Homo sapiens: one gene and its partner. The protein of the gene in region 1 interacts with the protein of each later gene in a pairwise test. Each region holds a gene or a part of one and is shown in the gene's direction. Other genes may lie near its edges.

Region 1 (7,021 bases):
TTGCTCCCAGGGAAACACACACACACACACACACACACACACACACACAATTATAATCTTAAATCTTAAACATCGTGGTACATCGTGTTTTCTTTATAAAAGAGAAAAAGAAGTTCAGAAGTGTTAAGTGACTTGCCCAAGGCCTCTCCACTAGCAGGTGCCAGAGTTGGGATTCAAACCCTGTCCAGGGGTCCCAGAGCTGAGGCTCCTCTGACCACCCTGCCCTTCCTCCTCCCATCCCCTCCTGTGGCCAGGTCTGTGTGAGAGCTGGACATGTCTGTGAAATGTCGTGGTAGCTCAGTGTGTGTTGGTTTGGGGGGTTACATGTCAATCTAAGTGAGTAGGAGAGTTAGCCAATGTGGAAACCATGAACAATGAGGACTAACTGTATAAGGTCAGAATTTAGCTACTTTAGCTAATAGGATAACTTGGGCAGGCACAGTCTTTTAGTAGGTTTTAACCATGCCACTCCAGATACCAGCCTTGGGCATAAGGCTGAACCTCATCATAGTCCCCTGATCCTAGTAGTGGTAAGATGACATCTGTCCTTAGCCCCCATCACCTGTCCTCCTTGACTTTCAGTAGAATTGACATCTGTCCTTAGCCCCTTGAGTTTCAGTGGTAAGATGACATCGGTCCTTAGCCCCCATCACCTGTCCTCTTTGACTTTCAGTGCCAATTGTGCCCACCTTCCTATATGACATGGAGTTCAAAGAAGTCAACTCTTCTCTGCACCTCGGCCATGCCGGAAGTTCCCCACATGCCCTCGCCTCTCCTGCCTTTTCCACCATCTTCTCCTTCTTCAACAACAACACCGTGGCTGTTGAAGAAAGCGTACCTAGTGGAATAGCATGGATGAATGACACTGCCAGCACCATCCCACCTCCAGCCACTGAAGCCATCTCAGCTCATAAAAACAACTGCTTGCAAGGCACAGGTTTCTTGGAGGAAGAGATTACCCGGGTCGGGGTTCTGTTTGCTTCAAAGGCTGTGATGCAACTTCTGGTCAACCCATTCGTGGGCCCTCTCACCAACAGGTATCTCACTGGGTGCAGTGCCCCGCAGGGTACACAGGAGTAGGAGGACTAGAAAAGTATAGAAAGGGGGTTGGAAGGGAAAAAGAAGAAATACTCACTTGTATGATTCCTCAGGGGAGTCAGCTATTCGGAAAGCTCGTTACTCAAAGAATAACATGTTACTGATGAAATGTTATGGGATCAGATTTTCTTAGTGATATATTGAGTATTGAGTACCAAGAAGAGAACCATGAACAGCAGTGTGCTGTGATGTTCTATCAGTGACCTGGAGCATGGCTTGAATGGGAAAAGGGTATGAATGGGACAGTCCTGTTGTAATCTAGAGCACTGGCTTCCCAGGAGTTGTATTGACGATTATTCTGATATTTTCAAGAGATATACACTCCACCTAGGCTATCATTTCTGGAAATGAGAATTTTGGCCCTGATCTATGGTCATATCTGCATGTTTGTTTGTTTGCTCATACTCATCCACATGCCCTATTTCATCTCCACACTACATTCAGAGGCATGTTTTACCATACACCCAAATAGCTGCATTTCTGCTCCCACTTACATTTAAAAATGTAGTCCATGTATGTGAGTGCCTGTTGGAATTGTATCTTTTTTTTTTTCAATTCCCTTTTAGGATTGGATATCATATCCCCATGTTTGCTGGCTTTGTTATCATGTTTCTCTCCACAGTTAGTAAGTAATTTGCTTCCTCTTTTCTTCCCTTCACTGATTACCTTTGATTTTATCAAGTGAATGCGGTGTAGATAGCAGGGTAACCTAGAATGTAATTAGGCATCTGACTAAGCAGACTGGAATATTGGTTTAAATGCTCTGCTGTTTTTGGTATGTGGACTAGAACAGTAGTGACAATTCAGTCTAGTTGGAATTGGTCTATTCTGCTATAGAAGAACAGATATTTTATTCACTTCACTTCAGCTGGACATAATGAGAGCTGTTTGAATATGTATGCTACGGGGTGTGTGTGTGTGTGTGTGTGTGTGTGTGTTATATGCATCAGTAATCCCTTGAGCAAGTTTAATACAAACTTTCCATCTATGAGAAGCAATGATATTATTTTGTTATGCCATGGAAAAGGGCAACTCACAAAAAAATGGAAATTGGACAATAACATCTGGAAAATTCCAAAAAGCCTACTGCTTTTCAGTTAAGGGCTTTAAAGGTTAAGCTTAGAAAAGTAAATTTGCTAAAGAAACAAGAAAGAGAAAGACAAATACTCTATCCAGGATCAGCTAAATGTTTCTAATAAAATGGAGATGGGATAAACACAGTACATGAGAAAAGTAAGTCTGGAAATTGATGCTGAGAAGTAAAGGAAGAAGGAATGAAAAGGGTTAGCGTTAGCAGGTTAAGGCAGGGGAAGGCAGCCTGTGGATCCAGCCTTGGTTCCCGATGGCCCTGCTGAACCTCTGCTCTCCAACAACACACCTCCTTCTCCCTCGCGTTTTTCTTTTCTTTTCTTTTCTTTTTAATTATACTTTAAGTTCTAGGGTACACGTGCACAACGTGCAGGTTTGTTACGTATGTATACATGTGCCATGTTGGAGTACTGCACCCATTAACTCATCATTTACATTAGGTATATCTCCTAATGCTATCCCTCCCCTCTCCCCCGACTCCATGACAGGCCCCGGTGTGTGAAGTTCCCCTTCCGGTGTCCATGTGTTCTCTGTTCAATTCCCACCTATGAGTGAGAACATGCCTCTCATTTTTCTTATTACCTTTCTGTTCCTTGTCTACTTTCTGTCTTCCTCTTCCTCAACTTTTCTTCTTTCCCAGCACAGAACTTGATTCCTAGCAACCCAATATTTAACAAGAATTTGTTGCATTCTGGGCTGGAAGGCTGCAAACTGCAAGAACTTGAGATGTGAGGTTGTCTCTGAGAACTACGTCTTGTTTGTGAAATTTTAGTGGACTTGAAGAAAATGAAGAAATTCAAATTAGCACTGTTCATGGAACTTCTAGCAGTTCAGCCTAAGTTAGACAGCAAATTTAAAAATAATAAGATGCCAGGTGCCCTATTTCATCAAATGAGGCTTAAGATTTATTCCAAACAACTTTATGCAGTGCATGTATAATGCCCAGATGGCCATAGTCACATAAAGAATGAAAAGACATGATTCCAGCTATCAGAAGTGTATATGATGGTTGCCTGGGGAGACATGAGACACACACTGAGAAGTAAGACAATGCGGTGTGCTAGTGGATCTGAGACGTTTTAGCATGATATCCTTGCCTGATTCTCTGCCAAGAATTCATGTGTTAAAAGCTTTACTTTTAAAGTAAACTGTATATGTTAAGTAATTATTGTTTAACTTATACCAAACTATATATGTTAAATAATTATTATTTCCATAGGATAGCTGTGTTGCTATATGGAGTTGGCCTAATTCTAACCAAAAGAAAATACATTTGATGTTTAGGGTATCCTTGTCCAATGTTCTAAAAAATACTTAAAAGAGATTGTTGATGCCCGTTACTACCCTTAAACCCTCCACCCCCCAACTAGGAGCCATGCCTAATGTAATCAAGAGTGAAATGGTGGCCCATGTAAAGGGTCCAAAGTGAAAAAAATAATTGCTTTGGTATTCCTAAATAGAATGACCAACTCTCCTGGTTTGCCTAGAATTGAGGGGTGTCTTAGTCCATTTAGCATTGCTATAAAGGAGTACCTGAGGCTGGGTCATTTATATTAGAAAGAGGTTTGTTGGCTCATGGTTCTGCAGGCTCTACAAGAAGCATGACACCAGCATCTGCTTCTGGTGCGGGCCTCAGGGAGCTTCCACTCATGGTGGAAGGTGAAGGGGAGCTGGCTGTGCAGAGATGAGAGAGGAAGAAAGAGAGAGGAGAGGGAGGTGCCAGCCTTTTTTTAACCAGCAGCTCTTGAGAGAACTGTAGAGTGAGAACTCACTCACCACCAAAGGAAGACATTAAAGTATTCATGAGGGATCCTTCCCCATAACCCAAACACCTTCCACTGGGCCCCATCTCCAACACCGGGGATCAAATTTCAACATGAGATTTGGTGGGGACAAACAACCCATGTCCACACTGTAGTGAGGGGCTTCCCAGGATGTAAGACTTCCTGTTTTTGTGGGGTATTTTGAGTTTCAGTTTTAAAAACAAGGAAGTTCTGGGCAGACCAAGATGAGTGGGTCACTCTATTCTCAAAGGACATTGGGAGAGTAGACAGAAAAGACTGGAAATAACAAAGTCTGAGAAAAGATGCTGGTGGCCAGGAAAGAAGAGACCAAGAATGTGCATCTTTGGGAGACAAGGAGAAGTTCGGTGTGATCATGTCTGCCGGGAAGTAATGGGAGAAGATTAAAAACACAACCAAAGACATCTGTAATGAATGGGCAAAGGGATTACAATTCTTCTGATTCAGACACTTCGAGGAGATTATTCTTACCCTAGGAGACATTTTTCTGGAATTGGAGGTGAGACATGTCTGGACTTAACTACCCTGACCACCAGCACCCTCTGATTTAGTTTTGTGTTGCGGGAAGTCAGGGACCCTGAATGGAAGGACCTGCTGAAGCCATGACAGAAGAACATAAATCATGAAGATTTCATGGACATTTATTAGTTCCCCAAATTAATACTTTTATAATTTCTCACACTTGTCTTTACTGCAATCTCTGAACATAAAATTGTGAAGATTTCATGGACATTTATCACTTCCCCAATTATCAATACTCTTATAATTTCCTATGCCTGTCTTTACTTTAATCTCTTAATCCCATGGTCTTCGTAAACTGAGGATGTATGTCGACTCAGGACCCTGTGAGGATTGCGTTAACTGCACAAATTGTTCATAAAGCGTGTGTGTTTGAACAATATGAGATCTCAGAACCTTGAAAAAAGAATAGGATAATGGAGATGTTCAGGGAGCAAGGGGAGATAACCATTAGGTCTGACTGTCTGGGAGCCTGGCAGGACAGAGCCATATTTCTCTTATTGTTTTGGATGACATATTCCTGTTGGATCTCAGTTTCCTGGGTGTCCATCTTCAACACACTGCCTCTCTTCACGGACAATAACTAGATGTTATTTTTATTTTGCATTTGCTACAGAGTCTAGCAGAGCTGCGCATTCAGTATAATTTAATACCTGCTGATTTTGTCTGGTTAAAAGATCGTTCAATATAAGATATAAAAAAGGATCTGATTGTATCACAAGATATTATTTTCTACCCAATTCCTATAATCCTCGAAGCACCTACTTACTGTCACTGTACTCCAGATGATCCTGTGGGACCCAGCAATGGTAAAGACCAGATCTGGATTTTGCACATGGACGATCCAGGAGTATGATCTAAGAACCAGTTTCCAGCCTAGGACACTGAGCTTCATGGACATCCCTCATTTCAGTGGACAGAATGTTGGGTTCTTGGCAAGAGATGTACAGACTCAGCCTTCCATCTGCTGTGTGGTGACTCGGTTTATACTTCTGTGGTTTCTCAGTTTTCTTGCCATTTAAATAGCAAAACTGAGGAGTGGGAGATTGAAAAGACAACTCAAAAAACAGGGAACAGTCATCATGCTTTATTAAAAACATATGCATCAAGACTCATATCTGCAGTATCACGGGCATGTTCTCTGGCGGCTGGGGAAGCAAAGGCAATTTGCTAACTGCAGTTATCTTGCTATTCTCTCTGCCCAGTGTTTGCTTTTTCTGGGACCTATACTCTACTCTTTGTGGCCCGAACCCTTCAAGGCATTGGATCTTCATTTTCATCTGTTGCAGGTAACACTGGCAACTCATCATGCACACACACATGCAGGCATGCACACACACACATCTCTTACTACCTCAGATCCTATATTTACATGGAGAAATTAAGGAAAATGTCACCTGGATAGGTAGAAATTGTGATTCAGAAATAAGGGAATTGGGCTGGGCACAGTGGCTCACACCTGTAACCCCTGCACTTTGGGAAGCCAAGGCAGGAGGATAGCTTGATTCTAGGAGTCTGAGACCAACCCGGGCAGCCTGGGCAACATAGTGAGAGCCCTATTTCTATTAAAAAAAAGAGAGAATAAGTTAGCCAGGCATGGTGGTGTGCACCTGTGGTCCCAGCTACTTGGGAGGCTAAAGTGGGAGGATGGCTTGAGCTTGGGTGGTCAAGGCTGCAGTGAGCCATGATTGTGCCTCTGCACTTCAGCCTGGGTGACAGAGCTAGACCCTAACTCAAAAAAAAAAAAAAAAAAAGAAAGGAATTACAGAGTTTCTAACAGGGTCCATAGATCTCTGAGCCTGACATAACTTCCTCTGCTAATATTCAGATGCAGCTAGCTCAGGTCAGAGCAAGCCTCCAGTGAAGCTATGAAGAAGGGCAGGCTTTCATTTAGTGCCACTCTATGGTCCTTTTTCTGTCCCCCTCTTAGTACTTTATAGGAATAATCATGTTAGTACTACTGGTAACACCAGCACAGTTTTCAAAGTACTGGTGAATATAATATCTAATGCAATCTTATGAAGTTGGCATTTTATGCCATTTTACCCATAGCTATGAAGGCCAGAGGGTCCAGCTGCCGTACAGCACTAGCCCACACTTTCTTCCAGGTCTGCAGTGCTTTCCTGCTCTTCCCTGGGCACCCCTGTTAAATAGAATGGTCTCTGTGTGCCTAGATTTTCCTTTCCCTGATCTGCTCTGTAACCCCTCATTTTGGGAAATGTGCTAGGAAATGATAAAATGTTATGAAACATGGTATAATCAGACAATGGATTTTCTGTGTTATCCTTCCAGAGGGCTTGCACTATCAACAATATTCTGAACAGGAGTGGACAATGTGGGGGCTTGGGGGACTAGGGAGGGTAGTACTTGAAAAATACTACGGGTTAAGTTTTGTAAAACCCCTCAAACTGAAACTCTAGCTAAGATTGTCACTGAAGAGATAACAGGGTGGGACCAAGGGCTCTGAGAGGCGGATAGAAGCCCCCCAGGGGGCCAGCTGCATCTGTAACTCT
Region 2 (7,662 bases), on another chromosome or scaffold:
TCTGGGTGAGGCCTCTCGCTGCCAGCTATCCCCCACTTCCCTGGCGAACTATATGGCACAGCAGAGGCAGCCATAATCCCCTCTGTAACAAACCCCATTGGCCTTAGGACAATCTGCATCCCTCACAGTGGCCGCAGCAAGCCCTGCTTAAGGAAAGTCTGAGCTCAGACCCAGCTAACCCTGCCCTCCACCTGATGGTATTTCTCTACTTATCCTGGTAGCTGAACACAAAAGACATAAACTCGTGGGAGCTTTATGGCCCTGCCAATCACCTGAGAAACTAGAATACTTACCCTGGTCAACCTAGGGCAAGCTTGTATCTCCCTTCTACTACCGCAGCTGGTGCTCTCTTGAAAGTGCCACTTCCTGGCTGGAGACCAACCAACTCAGGCCATTACAGCAACTCATGACAGAATAACCCTATTCCCAGGAAGGAGAAGACAAGAGCTAATACCACTGCCCGCAACATCCTGACTGACCAGAGGTCCTCAGTCTCTCCACATGACAGCTTCACTGCTAGCATAACCAGCATTGGAGAAAACAGCACACTAAAGAGAACTACAACCAATGACTCTCACGGAGTCTACTTCACTCGCCTGTCACCTACACCAGAGTAGGTGCTGGTATCCATGGCTAGGAGACCAGAAGATGATCACATCACAGGACTCTTTGCAGACATTCCCCAGCACCAACCCAAAGGCTGGTATAGCCCCAGTGGGTGGCTATACCCAGAAGAGCAATAACAATCACTGCAGTCTGGCTCTCAGGAAGCCCTATTCCTAGGAGAAGGAGAGTACCACATCAAGGAATAACCCGTGGGACAAAAGAACCTGAACAGAAGGAGTTGAGTTTCAGATCTTTCCACTGAAATAGTCTACCCAAATGAGAAGGAACCGGAAAAGTAATTCTGGTAATATGACAAAACATATTTCTATAACACCCCCCAAAGCTATTGCTAGCTCCCCAGCAATAGATACAAGCCAACAAAAAATCTCTGAATTGCCATATAAAGAATTTAGAAGGTTGATTATTAAGCTATTCAAGGAGATAGCAGAGGAAGGTGAAAACCAACTTAAAGAAATTTTAAAAAATACAGAATATGGATGAAAATTCTCCAGAGAAATAGATATCACAAAGAAAAAACAATCACAGCTTCTGGAAATGAAAGACACACTGAAAGAAATACAAAAGGCACTGGAAAGTTTCAACAATAGACTAGAACAAGTAGAAGAAAGAACTTCAGAGCTTGAAGACACAGCTTTCAAATTAACCCAATCAGACAAAGACAAAGAAAAAAGAATTTTAAAAAATGAGCAAAGCCTCCAAGAAATTTGAGATTATGTTAAATGGCCAAATTTAAGAATAATTGGTGTTGCTGAGGATGAAGAGAAATCTAAAAGTTTGGAAAACTTATTTGAGGGAATAATTGAGGAAAACTTCCTTGGCCTTGCTAGAGATCTAGATATCCAGATACAAGAAGTTCAAAGAACATCTGGGAAATTCATCACAAAATGATCCTCACCTAGGCACATGTCATCAGGGTATCTAAAGTCAAGAAGAAGGAAATAATCTTAAGAGCTGTGAGACAAAAGCATAAGGTAACCTGTAAAGGAAAATCTATGAGATTAACAGCTAATTTATCAGCAGAAACCATACAAGCCAGAAGGGACTGGAGTCCTGTTGTTAGCCTCCTTAAACAAAATAATTGTTAGTCAAGAATTTTGTATCCAGCAAAACCAAGCTTCATAAATGAAGGAGAGATAAAGTCTTTTTCAGACAAACAAATGCTGAAAGAATTCGCCACTACCAAGCCAGTACTACAAGAAATGCTAAACGGAGTTCTAAGTCTTGAAACAAAACCTCGAAATACACCAAAATAGAACCTCCTTACAGCATATTGTTTTATAAGCCTTAGGGCCTATAAAACAATAACACAATGAAAAAAATAAGGTATTTAGGCAACAACTTGCCTGATGAATAGAACAGCACTTTATATCTCAATACTAACATTGAATGAAAATGGGCTAAATGGTTCACTTAAAAGGTACAAGGGCTGGGTGCAGTGGCTCACATCTGTAATCCCAGCACCTTGGGAGGCTAAGGCAGGCAGATCACGAGGTCAGGAGATCGAGACCATCCTGGCTAACACAGTGAAACCCCATCTCTACTAAAATACAAAAAAAAAAAAAAAAAAAAATTAGCCAGGTGTGGTGGTGGGCGCCTGTAGTCCCAGCTACTCGGGAGGCTGAGGCAGGAGAATAGCATGAACCCAGGAGGTGGAGCTTGCAGCGAGCCAAGATCGCACCACTGCACTCCAGCTTGGGTGACAGAGAGAGACTCCATCTCAAAAAAAAAAAAAAAAAAAAAAAAAAAAGGTACATAATGGCAGAATGGTACCGGTATAAAAATAGGCACATAGATCAAGGGAACAGAATAGAGAACCCAGAAATAAAGCCAAATACTTTCAGCTAACTAGTCTTTGACAAAGCAAAGAAAAACGTATAGTGCGGAAAGGACACCCTATTCAACAAATGGTGCCAGGATAATTGGCAAGCCACATGTAGAAGAATGAAACAGTATCCTCATACAAAAATCAACTCAAGATGGATCAAAGACTTAAATCTAAAACCTGAAACCATAAAAATTCTAGAAGATAACATCGGAAAAACTCCTCCAGACATTGGCTTAGGCAAAGAATTCAGGACCAAGAACCCAAAAATAAATGCAACGAAAACAAAAATAAAGAGATGGGACCTAATTAAAGTAAAAAGCTTCTGCACAGCAAAATAAATAATCAGCAGAGAAAACAGACAACCCTCAAAGTGGGAGAAAATATTTGCAAACTGTGCATTTGACAAAGGACTAATATCCAGTTTCTACAAGGAACTCAAACAAATCAGCAAGAAAAAAAAAATAATCCCATCAAAAAGTGGGCAAAGGACATGAATAGACAATTCTCAAAAGAAGATATACAAAATGAAATGGCCAAAAAAATATGAAAATGTGCTCAACGTCACTAATTATCAGAGAAATGCAAATTAAAACTGCAATAAGTTGCCACCTTACTCCTGCAAGAATGGCCATAATTTAAAAATCAAAGAAGAATAGAAGGGTGCAGTGGCTCACACCTGTAATCCCAGCACTTTGGGAGGCCAAAGCAGGTGGATCACTTGAGGTCAGGAGTTCAAGACCAGCCTAGCTAAAATGGTGTGAATATGGTGACAAGGGAAAACTTTTACACTGGTGGTGGGAATGTAAACTAGTACAACCACTATGGAAAACAGTATGGCAACTCCTTAAAAAACTAAAAGTAGAATACCATTTGATCCAGTAATCCCACTACCGGGTATCTACCCAGAGGAGAAAAGTTATTATATAAAAAAGATACTCGCACATGCATGTTTATAGCTGCATAATTTGCAACCGAAAAAATATGGAACCAACCTAAATGCTCATCAGCCAACAAGTGGATGAAGAAAATGTGTGTGTATATACACACACACACACACACACACACACCCCTATATATGTATATGCCATGGAATATTACTCAGCTGTAAAAAGGAAGGGAATAATGGCATCCGTAACAATCTGGATGAAGTTGGACACCATTATTCTGAGTGAAGTAACTCAGGAATGGAAAACCAAATATTGTATGTTCTCATTTATTAGTAGGAGCTAAGCTATGAAGACACAAAGTCACAAGAAGGATACAATGGGCTGGGCGCCGTGGCTCACACCTGTAATCCCAGCACTTTGGGAGGCCAAGGCAGGTGGATCACTTGAGGTCAGGAGTTCAAGACCAGCCTGGCCAAGATGGTGAAACCCCATCTCTACTAAAATTACAAAAAATTAGCTGGGTGTAGTGGCAGGCACCTGTAATCCCAGCTACTCGGAAGCTGAGATGGGAGGATGGCTTGATTGTGCCACTTGAAGTAGCTATGATTGTGCCACTGCTCTCCAGCCTGGGCTACAGAGCAAGACTCTATATCAAAAACATAACAGAAAACATAACCTCAGAAGCATTACAATAAATATGCAATAAGCATCCACCCAGCATGTGTGGGGGACTGTGCTGATGCTGATGGCATGTGTGGGAGTAAGGCAGGCATCTGAGGAATGTGGGGGAACGGAAGGACGGGGAGTAATCTGGAGAGCCCCACGGTCAGTCAGTGGCAGGTCTTTCTTGAGCTCAGAAAGGTTAGGTAACTAGTTCAGATCAGACAGTAAAACAGGGGCAGAGCCTGGAATTGCACTGAGGCTTGAGTCTGACTTCTCTCCCCCACCTGCTGTGCCCTTAAACTGCAGAGATCGGGGCGGGGGTTGGGGGGCAAGCGGCTCAGATGGGTTCAAAAAACTCCCCAGGCTCAACTCTGGTTCTGACTGCCTGAGACATGGGCAGCTGACACAGCAGACCTTGAATCCTGAGGATGTGAGGCAGGTGGGTTGGATGAGAGGGACCCGGATGTCTGGTCTGCGGCTGCTCCTCTAAGTGCAGCAGCAAGGAGGCTGGGCCTGGACTGCAGGTGGTGCTGGGGAGCAGCGTGTTTACTGTGCTTGGTCATGAGCTGCTGGGAAGTTGTGACTTTCACTTTCCCTTTCGAATTCCAGGGTATATCTGGGAGGCCGGAGGACGTGTCTGGTTATTACACAGATGCACAGCTGGACGTGGGATCCACACAGCTCAGAACAGTTGGATCTTGCTCAGTCTCTGTCAGAGGAAGATCCCTTGGTAAGTTGGGGATAGTGTGATCTACCCCCATGTCCTTATTCTTGCAATAGCTCTATAAGGGAAGGATCATTCAGCTTTTGTAGATAAGCTCAGAGAGGTTAGGTAGCTGGTTCAGATCAGACAGGAAAGCAGTGGCAGAGCCGGGATTTGCACCCAGGCTTGAGTCTGATTGCTCCCTCCCTCCTGCTGGGCGGGTAAACTGTAGAGAGAGGTGGGGAAAACAGCTTAGATGGGTTCACAAAGCTCCCCGGGCTCAGCTCTGGTTCTGACACCCTCAGACACGGCCAGCTGACCCCAGAAGAAAGGTAGGTGTTGGGGGTGCCCATCTCTTTGGGAAATTTGAAGGAATCAAAGAAGGTGGAGGAGGGGAGGTGACCTGGAGCCCGGCATGTCCTTGTGGCCGGGCCACACCCAGGCTGGCCCCAGGGTGCTGCTGCTGAAGCCCAATGGGAACAACAGATTTCTTTTGAGACACAAGGAACTCAGAGGTTGTCTCACTCACCCTGAGTCTGAGCACCTACTTGTGCCAGGCCCTGTGGGGAAACTGAGGCCCTGGGAGGGGAATGACTTGCCAGGGTCCCGTGTCAGGAGGCTGAGCAGGCAGATCATAGGACTTCACGTCTCTGGCCCTCACCTCTGTCCCTCTGTTCAGACCTCTGAGCTGATAGAGAAGAAACAGGCTGTGCTGTGTCCCTAATGGGAAACATGGCTGAGACAGGGGAGTGAGAAGGTCGCATTGCAGAATGGTACCTGTGGCATGATGCCAGCTTTGCAATCATGAGATTCAAAAGCCACACTGTGGAATTGTGAGTATAACTACAGGAGTGAGAGCTTAGGTCTCTGTGTTTGTAGAAGCAGAATCAAACCTGGACACTGTTGGATTATTAAAATCACCCATTTTTGCTTCAATATCAGAGTCACAAGGGCAGATGTTGGCCTCCCCTCTGCCCTCCAAGAGCTGTGTGACTCTGGGCAAGTCACCTCCCCTCCCAGCCTAAGATTTTTCCCCTCTAAAAAACTTGATAGAGCTGCCAAAAGTCCATGAAATCAGGGGGGTAATTTCTGTGAAATATGAGTCATGGTCTTATTTGTTCTTCACCAAAAAGAGATGCCCATCAAGATAGAAAGAAAAATTAAATTCAATTTCTCAACTGAAAGTGAAACTGAAGCTGGGCCATGTCATCCAGAGGCTGGTTGCTTTTAGTTCAAGTAATGCCTCCTGCACCTGGGATTTCAGCCAGGCTGTGCCAGGGAGGGCGGAGGGCATCCAGGTCAGTCGTAGGGGGTGCAGCTGGGAACACAACAGTGTCCCCATTGAATGTTCAGAGTCTAAAGGGGAGACAGAGGCCCAAAGAGCCACATACAGGTAGAGCTCCCTCTGGAAAGCAGAGTGCTCAGGGAGCCTGGGGAGGGTTGGGGGCCGCCGCATGGACCAGGCAGCTTTGGGTGGGTCTCTGAGGACAGGTGACTTGCACATGGTGGGGACAGTGGGGGGGACATTCCAGGGCGAGGGAGCAGCTGAGTGAAGGCCTGAGGCTGGGGATGGGAGTGGGAGGAGTAGATGGGCTCCAGGAGGCACCGAAGCAGGGCGTCAGTGGGTGCCTGGACCTAAGGTGACTGTGGTGGCAGGGAGCGGTGAGGAAGGTGGGGTCCAGAGCATCAGAGGGCCTGTGTGCCCTGCTATGGGGTTTGAACTTGACCGTGGCTTTTCACTGAAGATTCCTCAGAAGGGTGCAGTGCCACGGCTGAGGCCTGTAATTCAGTGCTGTGGGAGGCAGAGGCGGGAGAATCACATGATGCTAGGAGCTCAAGACAGCTTGGGCAACACAGGAGATGCTGTCTCTCTGAAATGAAAAATTAACAAATTAGTCCTGCATGGTGCCGTGTGCCTGTAGTCCCAGCTACCTGGAAGGCTGAGGCAGAAGGATCACTTGAGCCCAGGGGCTCTAGGCTACAGCAAGCTGTGATAGCCCCAAAGCACTCCAGACTGGGTGACAGAGCAAGACAGTTTCTCAAAAATAAAATGAAAATGACGATTTCTCAGGAAATCATTTCGACTCCTCTTTCCCTGCCCAAGGAGGATGCCCCACAACCACTTGGAGGGAGATGCTTTGCTGAGAGTCCCTGTCCTCTGCATCTGGAGAGCTTGGCTCAGAGCTGAGGTGGGAGGGAGGGCTCCTCTTCCAGGTCGCTCAGTTGGACACCGGAATTGACCAGCCTGCAGGCTCACCCATGGAGTACACACTGTGTCCTAGTCAAGCCTGAGGGGCAGTATCCAGCCTCAACCCCCAGCAGAGGCTCCAGACAAAGGTGGGAGCCAGGCCAACAATGACCCAGGAGGATGGGATCCTGGATGCAGCTCCTCACAAGTATTGGGCAGGTCCGAGGCCCCAGCTCTGTCTGCCCTCCTGCTCCTCTTCTCCCTCCTGGTCCTCCTGGTTCTCATGGCTCATGAGATGGCGTTGAGACAGCTCCCCTGGCCTAGGGTGTCACAGAGTGAACAAAGCAGGAAGAAGGGGAAGGGAAGACCCCCTCCCGTCACCCCGTCCCTTACAGCAAGAAGTGTCCAGATGCCCCTCTGCATACTCCCCTGGTGAACTGCTGCCCAGGACTGGGTCCCCCTTTTAGTCTTGCTGCGTAGGGGCCCCAGAAGACAGATATCTGGATGCCTCGACCCTGAAACAGAGGTGGGAAGTGGAAAGAGGGAGGCGAGTGGCTTTTGAGGAGGGGGCTTTTGTATAAGAGCTGGAGGATGCCCGGGAACCACTGAGCTGTTAAAATAAAGTCTGCAAACAAAGACCAGCTGCTGGAAGTGGGTGTGCCGGGGAGTGCGCAGAGACACAAGGTGAGAAAAGAACAATGGTGATTTTGGAGCCGCCCCTAACTGGGATGGGCCTGAATCGGTATTATCATTATTACTTATAGTGTCA

The links.
Region 2: the proteins of SLC18A1 (region 1) and APOL2 interact in binary tests that used the Homo sapiens proteins (3 or more experiments, as listed by UniProt).

Annotation. Positions count from the first base shown.
Region 1 is NC_000008.11:20,173,137-20,180,157, reverse strand, and holds part of SLC18A1 (chromaffin granule amine transporter), read left to right. Parts: intron 1-673; coding exon 674-1,037; intron 1,038-1,664; coding exon 1,665-1,723; intron 1,724-5,713; coding exon 5,714-5,797; intron 5,798-7,021.
Region 2 is NC_000022.11:36,236,511-36,244,172, reverse strand, and holds the start of APOL2 (apolipoprotein L2), read left to right. Parts: upstream 1-4,645; 5' UTR 4,646-4,732; exon of another isoform or gene 4,733-5,037; intron 5,038-7,324; exon of another isoform or gene 7,325-7,577; intron 7,578-7,662.